Linked DNA regions of Homo sapiens. The protein of the gene in region 1 interacts with the protein of each later gene in a pairwise test. Each region holds a gene or a part of one and is shown in the gene's direction. Other genes may lie near its edges.

Region 1 (3,500 bases):
AGAGGATGAACTAGAGCTGAGAAAAGGGGAGATGTTTTTAGTGTTTGAGCGCTGCCAGGATGGCTGGTTCAAAGGGACATCCATGCATACCAGCAAGATAGGGGTTTTCCCTGGCAATTATGTGGCACCAGTCACAAGGTATGGTTTTGAATACATTGTTTACTATGTTCTAAACAGAGAAGCTTTGTTCTTTTCCATGGTTTTCAGCCTATCCAGATTCCTTTCACATTATAATTGCCTGTTACATAGCCAAGGTTTTAAAAATCCATGTCTACATCTGCTAAAATCCCTTCTAACTCTAAAATTTTTAGCTTATTTTCACATGGATATATGTGAAATTATAGGTTTCTACCAGTAAATGTACTGGGTTTTAAGTTATTTGCTTTAATGGGAGAAGGTTCAACAACACCATTTTCAGTATTTTTCTACTAGAAAAGGCATAGTGTTGATACAAAGAAAAGCTATATTATTAATACTTATGTGTTTATATAATGCGTACTATATGCCAGGCAGGCAGATTTATAAATGCATTACACTGATTAACCTTACTTCTTAGTTGCTGTTACATTGAGGCACAGAGATATCATACAGCTTGTCTGAGATCACATAGTGAAGAAGTGCTCAAACTCAAACCCTGGTGATCTAGATTTATATTTATTTCATTAACTTGGTAATTACCTCTGAATTCTGACAATGAATTCTATAATATAGTCAGAAATAAAAATTTTAAGTATAGCATAGATCCTTCTCAACTGAGGGCAGTTTTGCTCCCCAGGGAACATTTGACAATATCCAGAAATATTTTTGATTGTCACGACTAGAGGTTAGGGGTGCTACTGGCTTTAGTGGATAGAGGCTAAGAGTGAAACATCCTATGCATAGGACAGCCTCCCACAAAAAATAATCATAATCTGGCCTAAAATGTCACTGAGGTTGAGAAACCCTGTTATAGAGTGACAGGAGCTTTAGATATGCAAAATTTTATATATTTTATGTAAAGATAGTTCAGCTTTTGGTCACTGAGGAAAGAAGCCTTGGAAACAGTTAAATGACCTGTAATGAAATCAACACTGAGGGAGCCCTAGTTTTTGACCACCGGCCGTTTAATATACAGTCCAGGTCTAACTGCATTAAATCTTTCCTCAAACCGCCTGATTTTAAACAAATAGCTTAATGAACTGACATGTTTGTCAGCTGTTGGCCTTGATTTATAGGTTGGCCAGCAGCCTAATCAAATGAAAATCACTGTTGTTGCAGATGGTGACAGAATGTTAACTTTAATTTGACTTGCAAATTTTTAATCAATATAAACATTCTTTTCTATGTATGTTAAAATCTACATTCAGAATCCATCCCATCCAGAAAATGACAGATAGAACCTCCCTGGTGCAAAATAATGATAATAATGGATAAGAGAAATGCAACAAAGAACAAAAAAATAAAGTTAATGAAGGAAAACATTTTTATAAAAATTTTTTTGTCAAACATCTTTATCAAAAACCAATTATTAGAAGTCTCTCTGCTTGTATAGCCGGGTGCAGTGGCTCACGCCTGTAATCCCAGCACTTCAGGAGGCCAAGGTGGGCAGATCACTTGAGGTCAGGAGTTGATCACTTGAGGCCTGACCAACATGGTGAAACCCCATCTCTACTAAAAAAAAAAAAAAAAAAAAAAAAAATACAAAAATTAGCCAGGCATGGTGGCACGTGCCTGTAGACCCAGCTACTTTGGAGGTTGAGGCAGGATAATCACTTGAACCTGGGAGGCGGAGGCTGCAGTGAGCCGAGATCATGCCACTGCACTCCAGCCTGGGCGGCAGAGCAAGACTCCATCCTAAGGAAAAAAAAAATCTATCTGTTTGTTTAACTCTAGAGGAATATGTGCTTACAGTAAATTCTGTCATTCATGGTAAATAATAAGGATGTTCAAGCTAATGAAGTGTTTTCTTAGTAGAAAGTTACTATATACAGAATTGTTATCATTTAAATGAATTTGGAATATGGAAAAAAACACATTACACAAAACTATACTGAACTTAATTACATTCAGTGAGTAAATAGATGTTTAGAGTTGGCTGTAACCCTGAGCATGTGCAAATACAGGATGAATACAGGAGAGTTATTTCACACTGGCCCTGCTTTCAAGGAACTTACCAAGTCAGCAGTATTTGATAAAGAATTTATTTAAAAAATAATACACCAGCTAGGCGCGTTGGCTCAAACCTGTAATCCCAGCACTTTGGGAGGCTGAGGCGGGTGGATCACCTGAGGTCAGGAGTTCGAGACCAGCCTGGCCAACATGGTGAAACCCCACCTCTACTAAAAATACAAAAAAGTAGCCGGGCATGGTGGCGCGTGCCTGTACTCCCAGCTACTCGGGAGGCTTAGACAGGAGAATCACTTGAACCTGAGAGGCAGAGGGGTGAGCTGAGATCGCACCACTCCACTCCAGCCTGGGCAACAGTGAGACTCTGTCTCAAAAAAAATACTACTACTACTAATAATAATATACCACATTTTGTAATCAAGGGCCAAAGCATAAACAATTGTGGAGTTTAGAAACAGAATGAAAGAAGAAATCCACATGAAACAATAGAATCATAAGATCTTAAACCTGAATCTGAGGCAAGGCTTCTTGAACTGACAGTGTTCATGCTGGATCTTGAAACATAAATGAGATTACAATATGTCAAGAGAAGACGGAGAGGACTTTCCACTAGTGCGTGTATGTGTGTGCATGCATGTACATGGGCACATGTGTGATGTGGAGCTGGAGGCAAGTAGGAAGCCAGGAAACAGGAGCAAAGATATGGAAATGGGGATATTGTCAGGGAATGATCCTAGCTTGTTCTGTAGATGAAGGGGGAGAATCCAGGGCCTTGAAAGTCAGTGGAGATATTTGGTCTTGTTATGGAAAGCTGAATGCAATAACTGTATATTCTTGAGCAGAGTATGACGTGTGGTTTCTGGTGACTCAGAATATATTTCAAGACCTTTCTCTGTCTCAGCCATCATTACGTTGAATTTTCTATTCTTAAACTTTATAAAAATAATTCCATTCATTTTTTAAAATGTTCTATGTTTAAAGCTCTGAGTCATTTTTCTTGCATTTAATTGTTCTTTCTGTCATTTTGCTGATGGACTGGGCTTTCCATCTATGTTTGTGTCTTGGCAGGGCGGTGACAAATGCTTCCCAAGCTAAAGTCCCTATGTCTACAGCTGGCCAGACAAGTCGGGGAGTGACCATGGTCAGTCCTTCCACGGCAGGAGGGCCTGCCCAGAAGCTCCAGGGAAATGGCGTGGCTGGGAGTCCCAGTGTTGTCCCCGCAGCTGTGGTATCAGCAGCTCACATCCAGACAAGTCCTCAGGCTAAGGTCTTGTTGCACATGACGGGGCAAATGACAGTCAACCAGGCCCGCAATGCTGTGAGGACAGGTAAGGAGGAACCCAGGCCAGAACATATCAGGATAAAGGGCTTACCTGCCTAATAGTAGATCTTTT
Region 2 (3,500 bases), about 17 Mb from region 1:
GCCCTGGTGCCCATTCACATTGAAGTCACCAGCGATGAGCAGCCCCGAGCACACGTGGAGTTTTCCGACAGCGACCAGGACGGGGTTGTGTCCGACCACAGTGACTACATTCACCTAGAGGGGTCATCCTTCTGCAGTGAAAGTGACTTTGATCACTTTTCCTTCACATCCTCCGAAAGCTTTTACGGATCCAGCCACCACCACCACCATCACCACCACCACCACCACCGCCACCTCATCAGCTCCTGCAAAGGCAGGTGCCCGGCCTCCTACACTCGATTTACCACAATGTTAAAACACGAAAGAGCCAGACACGAAAACACCGAGGAGCCCAGAAGGCAAGAAATGGACCCTGGCCTTTCTAAACTTGCTTTTCTAGTCAGTCCTGTGCCTTTCCGGAGGAAAAAAAATTCGGCTCCTAAGAAACAGACTGAAAAGGCAAAATGTAAAGCATCTGTGTTTGAGGCTCTGGACTCTGCCCTTAAAGACATCTGTGACCAAATTAAAGCTGAAAAGAAAAGGGGGAGCTTGCCGGACAACAGCATCCTGCACCGCCTCATCAGTGAGCTGCTGCCAGATGTTCCCGAGAGGAACTCATCCCTGAGAGCGCTGAGGAGGAGCCCCCTGCACCAGCCTCTCCACCCACTGCCTCCCGATGGTGCTATTCATTGTCCACCCTACCAGAATGACTGCGGGAGAATGCCCCGCAGTGCCTCTTTCCAAGACGTGGACACAGCCAACAGCAGCTGCCACCACCAAGACCGTGGCGGTGCACTCCAAGGTGGATGAGCTTTTCTTTCTTTTTCCTTGTGGTTCAGAGACCCACCCTCCAGCTCTTTCATTTTCCATTCCAACATCTCATCACTCCCGAGCTGGGAGACCATTTGGCGTCGTTATGTGTTGTGAAGCAAAAACTTGTTGTGCAAATATGTCTTACTGAATATTTCTCATTTGCCCATGTGATATTTGGACTTGATGTGTGGCTTAAAGTGATCATCAATTCACAAAAATTTACTCTTTCGAAAACGAGAGGGAAGGCCATTTTGTAGCTCAGCATTAGGGTTGAAACAACCACTACTCACATTGAGACAATAAATTACGTTGTGACATGAATCAAAACCTATAGTTCCACAAATAGCCTTTTAAAAATGTTTATATTAACGTTAAAACTTTATATTCATTCAGTTAATAAATAATTTGTCACATTCTATATAGAAGATACTATATCAAAACATTCAAGAAGCAAAACTGAAATATGTGATTAGTAATTGATGGACACAAAGAAATTAGGGTTTGTTTAATAGCTTTCTCCATTTCAAGGACACAATGGTGATAAAATTTTTGTGAATGTATCTTTAAGCTATATATATAAAAGTCCCATTTCCACCATTTAGTGTATTCATTTTCTCTTTTCCATTACTTAATTCATTCACTTTCTCTTTCTGCTAAAACAGTCCTGTATTGAAATTTGAATTACACTATTCAGGCTAACAGTGACTCTAAACTCTATTTTCATAGATAACTTTGAAGTGGCAACACAAGAATAAATAGCAATTGAAAGGCAGAGGACTATTTTTGAGATTTATATAACTTACAGCCCAGGGTGTTTTAATATTTGTGACCAATTATTTTCATTAATTCTTACAGCACATCTGTTCACTACGTAAATTTTAAGAGGCTGGAATGAACATTCCGGGCTGAAAGTTGGTCAACAGAGAAACTTCTATGCACCAGACACTACAGAGTGCTTTACATACATTATCTAATAAAACTGGCATAGGCCTATGAAATGGGTGTTATTTCAAAAGCCATTTTCAATTTTGGAAGTTGGGCCCAGAGAGGAAAGGAAATTCGTCCAAGGTCACACAGAGAGTAGATAACAGAAAAGAGATTCAAACCCCTAATAATTCAGAATTTATAGTATAAAATATAATCTCAGACAAAAAAAAAGACATAATTCACAGTTCATACTAGTGTCAAATATGGCTCGATTGTTAATTAACTTGCACAAATCTACTTAGTCTTTATGTTTGCTTTCACTTTTGCTACACTATACACTTACGTTTATCTTTGCCTACCCTTAGGCTGAAGCAACATGCTTCAAAATAATAAATTAGAATTTAAAAAATCAATTTCTACAATTCAAAATTTTCACTAATTGAAATGTGTCAGAATCTCATTTTTTAATAAATTAGCTACCTTCTCCAGGCTTTTAATATCCTAATATAACCATCTCTCAATTTTATGTGCAGATAGGAGTACATTTTTGAAACGTAACTTGGAAGGGCTTTGAAATGCATTTAAAAGTATTTTGTTTTTTAGTAAAATATTTACTTTCCAATTGTGTTTCACCCAAGTGAAAAATAGCTTATATTCCCTGGGTTAGAAAAAGTAATTTAAAATTTATGATCATTATGAGGCCCTATGATCATAAAAGTATATTAACTTAGAATTTACATCATCAAAGTAGTCAAAATCCTAAAACAATGTTTTCTTATTATGAATCAGCACTTTAAATTCTTTCATAGATGGATAAAATAAATTTTATTTTTAATGCTTCTTGTTAGTCTGGATAACTAGATATATTTAAGGGATAAAAGAAAGAATTGACAAATATTGACCCAGTTGTACTGATAAAATTCTATAACATAGACTACTGGAATACATTTAATGTCTAGTTACATCTCCATATGTAAGTCACGTAAGTGCAAAAGGTATAAGATACTATTAAGAACTACATGCAATCAAAATTTTGTAATGTGATTATTTATGCTTTGCTTTAAGATGAACAAAAATAATTCAATATTTCATAAGCAATTTGGCAACTGACATGATGCTTTCTGTTTATCCCTTTTTTGCTTGGAGTAAGAAGAAACAATATCTCTTTGTTTCTTTGCTTTCTGATAAGGTGTTTATCATCTGGGCACAAAGGAAGGTCGTAGATAAACAGCATGGCATCTTGAGATTCAATAAGTATTTAAAAACAGAGGAAGAGCGAAGAGGGGAGAGTAAGGCAGAAGGAGAATGTTCATCACCACCCTCCTGTCATCCTCATACTTTCTTTGGTTTTATCTCTTTCTTTTTCATTACTACAGTCTTAAATTACTCCACAAAATGTTTCTTTTTCTACAAATTGTTGCTATTTTCAAATTCTCCATCCTCTGTAAATCTTATAATAGTAATTATAAATAAGAAGCAAAGGCATAGAAACAGAAAGCTTTGGAAAAAATTTATATGAAAAATCCCTCTAACTATAAATTGTCTTACTGGGTGTGGCAATATAATTAATCAGCAATGTAGTAATCATATTTATATAGACAATTATAATTCTGCAACCTCAGATATTTTTCCTTTTGAAATGCTCTTGTTTTGTGTCTTATTTCACAACTTTGTAATGAACTATGAGTTTTATGCCCATGTGTTCGATAACGGTGTCTCTCCAAATTTGGGGAAAAAAGTAGTGGCCACCAGGGAAAATGGCGGAACAGGTTGGCTTGTAA
Region 3 (3,500 bases), on another chromosome or scaffold:
GGACGTCTTCCTCTGTTTTCATCTTCCTGAGACAGCACAAGTAGAGCCATCTTCTATTCCTTCTAGTTTTGAAATTGGCATAATGTCTGATTAATTATAACAAAAACTCCCTTTAACTGCCTTGATCTTTTAAACGTATTGTAATCATAGCTTTACAGAGCATTACATGAAAATGTAAATATATCCATAATCTCTCCACATAATAGATATTTTCATTTTACCAGATTCTCATCCAATTTTTTATCCATATAATTCTGTTTTTTTATGTAGTTATAATGACGATGTACAGTTTTTTGGCGGGGTTTACATAACATTGCTTAGTAAATAGTGCCCATGTTATCACATGGTTTTTATTTCAGCATATAGTAATTTACCATTACCATGGACATTTAAATTATTTCTGTTGTTCTGCTAATGTAGGTAATGCTACCATAAAGAACTAAATTGCTTTTCCTCCATTGAAGAAGAATGTCAACAAGAAAGGAAAAATAGACAAACTGGAATTTTATAACAGTAAATGTATAGGAAGTGTTACAGCTCTTTGAGAATTTGTCTAGCAGGCTTTCCAGGGTTTTGCTGGAAAGCCTCTGAAATTTACTTTTAAAAAAACACAATAGCTGGGCATGGTGGCTCACGCCTGTAATCCCAGCACTTTGGGAGGCTGAGGTGGGCGGATCACGAGGTCAGGAGTTCGAGACCAGCCTGACCAACATGGTGAAACCCCATCTCTACTAAAAATATAAAAATACAAAAATTAGCTGGGCATGGTGGTGTGTGCCTGTAATCCCAGCTACTCAGGAGGCTGAGGCAGGAGAATCACTAGAACCCGGGATGCAGAGGTTGCACTGAGCTGAGATTGCGCCATTGCACTCCAGCCTGGGCGACAGAGCGAGACTTCATCTCAAAAAAAATAAAAATAAAAAAAAATGTATACAACGAAGAAAGAATTAGCATGAAATATGCATATGTCATCCATGAGGCTGAGGTTCGTGGCAGCCTTAGCCTCAGAGCCAAATTCCCAAACCAGAAATAGAGAAAACTTAAGCAAACAAGTCAAATATGTCACAACACCCCTAGCGATGGCCCCACTCCCTAACAGAGCACCTTACATGTACTCAAAGCCTACTGATTCTTTCCTAACACAGTTTAAAGTAATTTTTGGTTGGTTGGTTCCAAACCTTATAGGAGATTAATAACAGCTAAAGTTAAGACTGGTGAGAAGCAAAATCACTGACATGGGAGAGAAGTGACAGATGGCAGTCCCAGGTCAGAGGAGGAGACAGGAACATGGCTGTGCTGTGTGTCACAGCGCAGGACAACACCAGATGTTTCTGTTGGGTTGAATTTCTATTGGGTTAAATGGAATTAAATTAATTGAGTCAAACTGTGCTTTGTGCCTCTGTAGAAAAATTTAAAGAGTTAGAAAATATAGGAAAATTTCCATGGACAAATGCTAGAAGAAAACAGAATACTACTGCTTAAAAGGAAAACTTTAATTCCTGAAAAGATTTGTTTCTGTGGAAGACTGCATTCATAGACAATACCTAATGAAGAAGTATAGCTATAATAAAATTATTATACAAGAGTTGATGATTGAAATTTTTAGTGAAGGCCAGGCACGGTGGCTCACGCCTGTAATCCCAGCACTTTGGGAGGCTGAGGTGGGCAGATCACCTGAGGTCAGGAGTTCGAGACTAGCCTGACCAACATGGAGAAAACCTGTCTCTACTAAAAATACAAAATTAGCCGGGCATAGGGGCGCATGCGTGTAATCCCAGCTACTCAGGAGGCTGAGGCAGGAGAATTGCTTGAACTCAGGAGGTGGAGGTTGCGGTGAGCAGAAGTCGCCATTGCACTTGAGCCTGGGCAACGAGAGCGAAACTCCATCTCAAAAAAAAAAAAAAAGTGTTAGTGAAAAGTAAGTTTTCACATGGGACAGATATCTTTGAATGGTGTGTGTGTGTGTGTGTGTGTGTGTGTGTGTGTGTGCACCAGAAGAAGGGCTTCTGTTTGATAAGAGTACAGCCCTTCTTCCTTCTTGGGCACCAATAAATGAATTGACTTTAAGGAGTTGTTCATATAGACTCCAAATATTTTTCCTAACTTATTATTTGCTTCTTATTCTAAATATTATTTCTATTTTTAAATTGGTAATAGACCATCTTCCCTGTACCCTCTAGATCTTTAATGGAATAGCTAAGCATATATCTTCTCCCATCCTCCTTTAAGACTTGAGTAGGCAATGTAAGGACTAGAACTGTGTCCTGCTCACTATTGCACCTTCCTTGAGGGGCACAGAGCCTGAAACATAAAGGGCATTTTCAAGTATTTCTTTTTAAAAATTTTCTTATAGAGACAGGATATCTCTATGTCACCCAGGCTGGTCTTGAGCTTCTGGCCTCAAGTAGTCCCCTGCCTTAACCTCCCAAAGCACTGGATTATAGGCATGAGCTACCATGCCTCGCCTAAAAGTAGTTTTTAAATTGGTGAATTAATTTCCACAGTCTACCAAAATTTTTTTGTAGATTTGCCTTAAATATTTCCAGCATTAGGCATGTTTAATATTTTATAATGATAATGGATCATCTAACAAAAATAAATAAGGCACCGTCGAGTACCAAGTTTTCCTCTGCTCTGCAGCAGCCTCAGCCTCCAAGCCCACAGCCTGAGAGCGCACCCAGACAGCCCTGAGCAGTACCGAATGCACTTGGAGTGCCCTCTAATTACAGCTTTGGACAAGGCCAGCCCTCATTCTACTAACCACTTGTGGCGGGTCAGTTGATGGTCAAGGCCCCATGATAGGTGTCTGGTTTACATCCAGATGAGTCTTTTCTCAGATGCCTGCCCAAGAAAATATTTGGTTGGGATGGTGAGAGGAAGAGGTGCTTCTTTCAGTGTTTTCTCCTAACTCCCTTCCTTGCTCAGAAATTTGGTTCTTTCTCAGAAATCCCTAAGTGGACCAGTAGGGTCCCTATCAAGATGCCTACTTGAGGAATCTGCCAGTTCCAGCCCACTGAGTCTCAGAGCAGTGGTTAGAGCAGACCTACCTGATTGACACATGCCCCAGTTAGACCTGTTCACAACATCTGAGCACCTGACCTCATGCCAAACACCTGTTAAATCCTCAACAAATGTTTGTGTAGTAAATGAATTTTTTTTATGTGAATGGGTTTTAAGCCTAGTTACAGTGGACTGATAGCCCATGAATAGCTTGGTTTTGGTTTTTATTTTGTTTTTGAGACAGGGTCTCACTCTGTCACCCAGGCTGGAGTGCAGTGGCGCAATCTTGGCTCATTGCAGCCTCGACCTCTCAGGTTCAGGTGATCCTCCCACCACAGCCTCCCAGGTAGCTGGGACTATGGGACAGGCGCACACCAACATGCCCGGCTAATTTTTGTGGAGACAGGGTTTTGCTATGTTGCCCAGACTGGTCTCAAACTCCTGAGCTCAAGCCATCATCCCTCCTCAACCTCTCAAAGTGCTGGGGTTACAGGCGTGAG
Region 4 (3,500 bases), on another chromosome or scaffold:
TAATGCTTCTCATCCTTTCTTTTTCTGTCTCTTTTTGTTTTAATTGTGGTAAAGTACCCATAACATTTACCATCTTGACCATTTTTAAGTGTGCAGTTCATTCGTGTTAAGCACATTCACATTGTTAAGCAACCAATCTCCCGAACTCCTTTCATCTTGCAAAACTGAAACTCTGTACCCAGTAAACAACAACTCCTCCTTCTCCCTCCCCGCAGATTCCTCCCTCCAACCACCATTCTACTTTCTGTCTCTATGAATTTGACTCTAGACACCTCATATAAGTGGAATCATACAGTATTTGTCTTTTTGTGACTGGCTTATTCCACTAAGCTTAATGTTGTCAGGGTTCATCCATGTTTCTCATTCTTTTCTGAACCCTTAACACCAAAAATCAAAATCTCATGGCCTTCTATATGCAAATTTGGACTTTCAATATGAGTCAATTATGACTAAGTCAAGTAAATAAATCAAAGCCCCAGGTAGTTGTAGAAAACACTTCCTCAGACTCCACAGGCTCCCCTCTGAGATTCAAATAGGTTCCACTCTCACCCACTGGGTGGGAGTCACTAGTTTAGATCACTCCCAGCTCCTTCATTTGGAGAAATGATATACAGTGTTTAAAACAAGAGAATGCTCGGGCCACCTGTTATAATGACAAAGACATGACAGAATAGGGACCCACGCTGATCTTCACCACTCACTCCACCTTGGGCAAATCATTAAGCTTCTGAACTTCATATTCCTCCTCTGCAAAATGGAGGTATTAAAAATCTCCACCCTGCTGCCCTCACAGAGTTGCTTTCACCATCAAATGAAATAACATATGAGAATGTGCTTTGTCCTATCTACTGTGGTCAAAGTCATTCCTTTTGGTTTTTTATGTCTAGGGAGTTCTGTGGAACCAGGCACCGAAGAAAAAAGTTTAATCAGTGATAAAACAGCTGAATGGATTGCAGAGGATGATGATGACGTGTTTGTGGCTTCACGCACAACTGAAGATTTATTTACTGTGATACACAGGTCTGCACCAATTTCCTTAATTCTAATTGCAATTGCCTTCCCTTTTTGTACTTAAAGAAAACCTGCTATTCCACATTGAAATCCTAATTGTAAAAGAAAAAGAAAAAAATTAAAAATAAGAAAAACTGCTACCTTTAAGCAGCCATTAGAATTGCACCTGGAGGCTAAGTTCAGATACCCACATATGTGAGCGCAGTCCAGGGCCTCGCATCTCAAATTCACTGACATCGTTGGGTAAAGTGGAGGAAGGGAGGGGAGAGGAGGACCAGGTGCCGAGTGAGAGGCCCCTCGTCTCCTAGCAACCACTTGGCCTATTGTGGCTCCATCTGCTCTCTCTTAGCTCTGTCTATAGTCAGAGACATTTAACCCTTCACAGAATTCCTTGTATCAAAAAAATCCCATCAAGAGTTGAAGTGGGGCACCAGGCAGCATATCAAAACAGGAACTTAGGAAAAGAGGAACCAGATGGGGACCAGTTATTGGACAGGGTTACAAGGCAGGGGTTCAGTGACAAGAAAACTGGGAAGAGTTTATTATTGGAGCTAGACCACCAGTCCAGAACAGGATCAGTCCCCAGGCTGTCCTGATTCAGAGTCACTGAGCTACTAGCCTTGACTCCTGAAATTCGTCCTTGGTCCCAGAACCTGGGCAGGACTGAGGCTACAGGCACAGGACAAGTGACTCCAGCTGGGGGCATTGAAAGGAATATGGGGACGGGAGGGCCCAACAAGGGACTCTGAGGATTTAGAGGTGAGAGAGAGAGAAAGCAGGTCAATACGGCTGCTTGCAGGGCTGCCGCCTGGATTGTGTCACAGGCATGGGGGTCTGTGAAGCACTGGTAAATGTCTGCTGCATTAACTCACTCAGACCAAACTTTCTCTTATCTAGGTCCAAAAGGAAGCTGCTCGGCTGGAAGGAACCTGGTGAGGCCTTTGTGGGTGGCAGAACGAGTTCCCACTCACCAATAAAGAACACAGCTGAGTCTCCAATCAGTGAGTCTACCGCCACTGCAGGGTCAGGCAGCAGTGCCAACCTAGATGCTGGCAGAAATGACGATTTCAAGGCCTTGCTACAGAAGAAGGGAAGTAAGGCAACTCCAAGGTCTCGTCCCTCAGCAGCTGAACTTCTGAAGACCACTAACCCACTGGCTCGGAGAATTATTGCACAATTTTCAAAAGACTATGAAACCACCGATAACCCCAGTACCTAAGCCCTGGGCTCAACAAGCAGGGTTTACTTACTAAACTTGAGTAGAGAAGGGGGAAGAGAAAGGGTCTTTAAACAGAACCATGGGAACAACAGAGCCTACATTTCTTTTATATTAACTCACACTCTGGACAGCAGGAGAGAGGCTACTTCATCTAGAGCTAAAATCATCTGGCACTTAATCATCTTCAGACATTTTTATGTTTTCATACTTATAAGCTTGTCATGACTGACTACCGAGTTTCTTCTTATTTTCCCCCAGTGGTGTGCACTAACTAAGAAGAAATTTTCAGATGTCAGGGCACATGTGCCACTTTTTCAATTCAGTGACCCGGCTGCTCCATCCCTGGCTCCTGTCACTGAGGAGTGCAGTGTGAGAGCAGATTGGAGGCTGCCAAACTTGGGGGGCATAGGGTGCCATTGCTTATTATTCACTTTCCTAGGGAGGCTCTGATGGCCCTGTGTGCAAACACAGAAAGACTCTGATGCCTCCTCAACCACAGTTTAGCTTTCCCCTGCGCTCACAAGAGGTTTGCAGGGTGCACTTATTTCGGCATGAGGTTGATTGGATGGCTTTTGTGGTGCAAAATATGACTGTGACTCTGTCCTGAAACTTAATGCCTTTTTCAGTTTGATTGTCTACATGGAGATCAGGGTGATAAGTTTCAATAAACATATAGACGCCCCCCCACCCACCCCCATTAGCTAGAAAAGACCAGGACTGGGTTGCTTTAAATGAACCAAGCTTGACCAACAAACAAGACAGCCATTTGTTCACTCAGATCTAGCCGAGGTAACTCACAAGTGCACCTTGAGATCCTCCATGTGTCTGTCAACAGCGATAGGCAGGATCTGCGCCCAGCTCATGCTGCATTCTAAGAACTCTCATTTCATTTGCATATAAAATTCATTACAGGAAGTAATTAACTGAAGGAACAGCATCATCAAAGGCTCAAGGATAATGGAAAGTAAGTGCATCTTGCCCCCCACCAGTCAATTCAGATCGTGGTTTGTGGTTGGTTTGGTTTTGTTTAAAGGAAGTCCGACTCTGTTCCAAAAACCAAGAACATATAAACTAAAAGGATCTATCCAAAATCTAAAAGGCAGTCTTGCCAGTTGCTATGGCCCATAATGCACACACACACACACACACACACACACACACACACACACACAAAAGGGCTACTTTTTGCCATTTAGGTTCTGTGTTTGACCAGCTTTCAATTAACCTTGCTGGGGGAGAGCATAAGAACCTGGGTAAATGGCATACTGAA

The links. Proteins that work in one complex are often made in the same cells at the same time.
Region 2: the proteins of SH3RF1 (region 1) and SORBS2 interact in a two-hybrid assay, tested with the Homo sapiens proteins (one large-scale study listed by BioGRID).
Region 3: the proteins of SH3RF1 (region 1) and WIPF1 interact in a two-hybrid assay, tested with the Homo sapiens proteins (one large-scale study listed by BioGRID).
Region 4: the proteins of SH3RF1 (region 1) and NHSL2 interact in a two-hybrid assay, tested with the Homo sapiens proteins (one large-scale study listed by BioGRID).

What each region holds. Positions count from the first base shown.
Region 1 is NC_000004.12:169,117,457-169,120,956, reverse strand, and holds part of SH3RF1 (E3 ubiquitin-protein ligase SH3RF1), read left to right. Parts: coding exon 1-138; intron 139-3,174; coding exon 3,175-3,434; intron 3,435-3,500. UniProt on the Homo sapiens protein: Has E3 ubiquitin-protein ligase activity. In the absence of an external substrate, it can catalyze self-ubiquitination. Stimulates ubiquitination of potassium channel KCNJ1, enhancing it's dynamin-dependent and clathrin-independent endocytosis.
Region 2 is NC_000004.12:185,620,195-185,623,694, reverse strand, and holds part of SORBS2 (sorbin and SH3 domain-containing protein 2), read left to right. Parts: coding exon 1-781; intron 782-3,500. UniProt on the Homo sapiens protein: Adapter protein that plays a role in the assembling of signaling complexes, being a link between ABL kinases and actin cytoskeleton. Can form complex with ABL1 and CBL, thus promoting ubiquitination and degradation of ABL1.
Region 3 is NC_000002.12:174,563,305-174,566,804, reverse strand, and holds part of WIPF1 (WAS/WASL-interacting protein family member 1), read left to right. Parts: intron 1-3,500. UniProt on the Homo sapiens protein: Plays a role in the reorganization of the actin cytoskeleton. Contributes with NCK1 and GRB2 in the recruitment and activation of WASL.
Region 4 is NC_000023.11:72,141,345-72,144,844, forward strand, and holds part of NHSL2 (NHS-like protein 2), read left to right. Parts: exon of another isoform or gene 1-18; intron 19-887; coding exon 888-1,020; intron 1,021-1,908; coding exon 1,909-2,230; 3' UTR 2,231-3,500.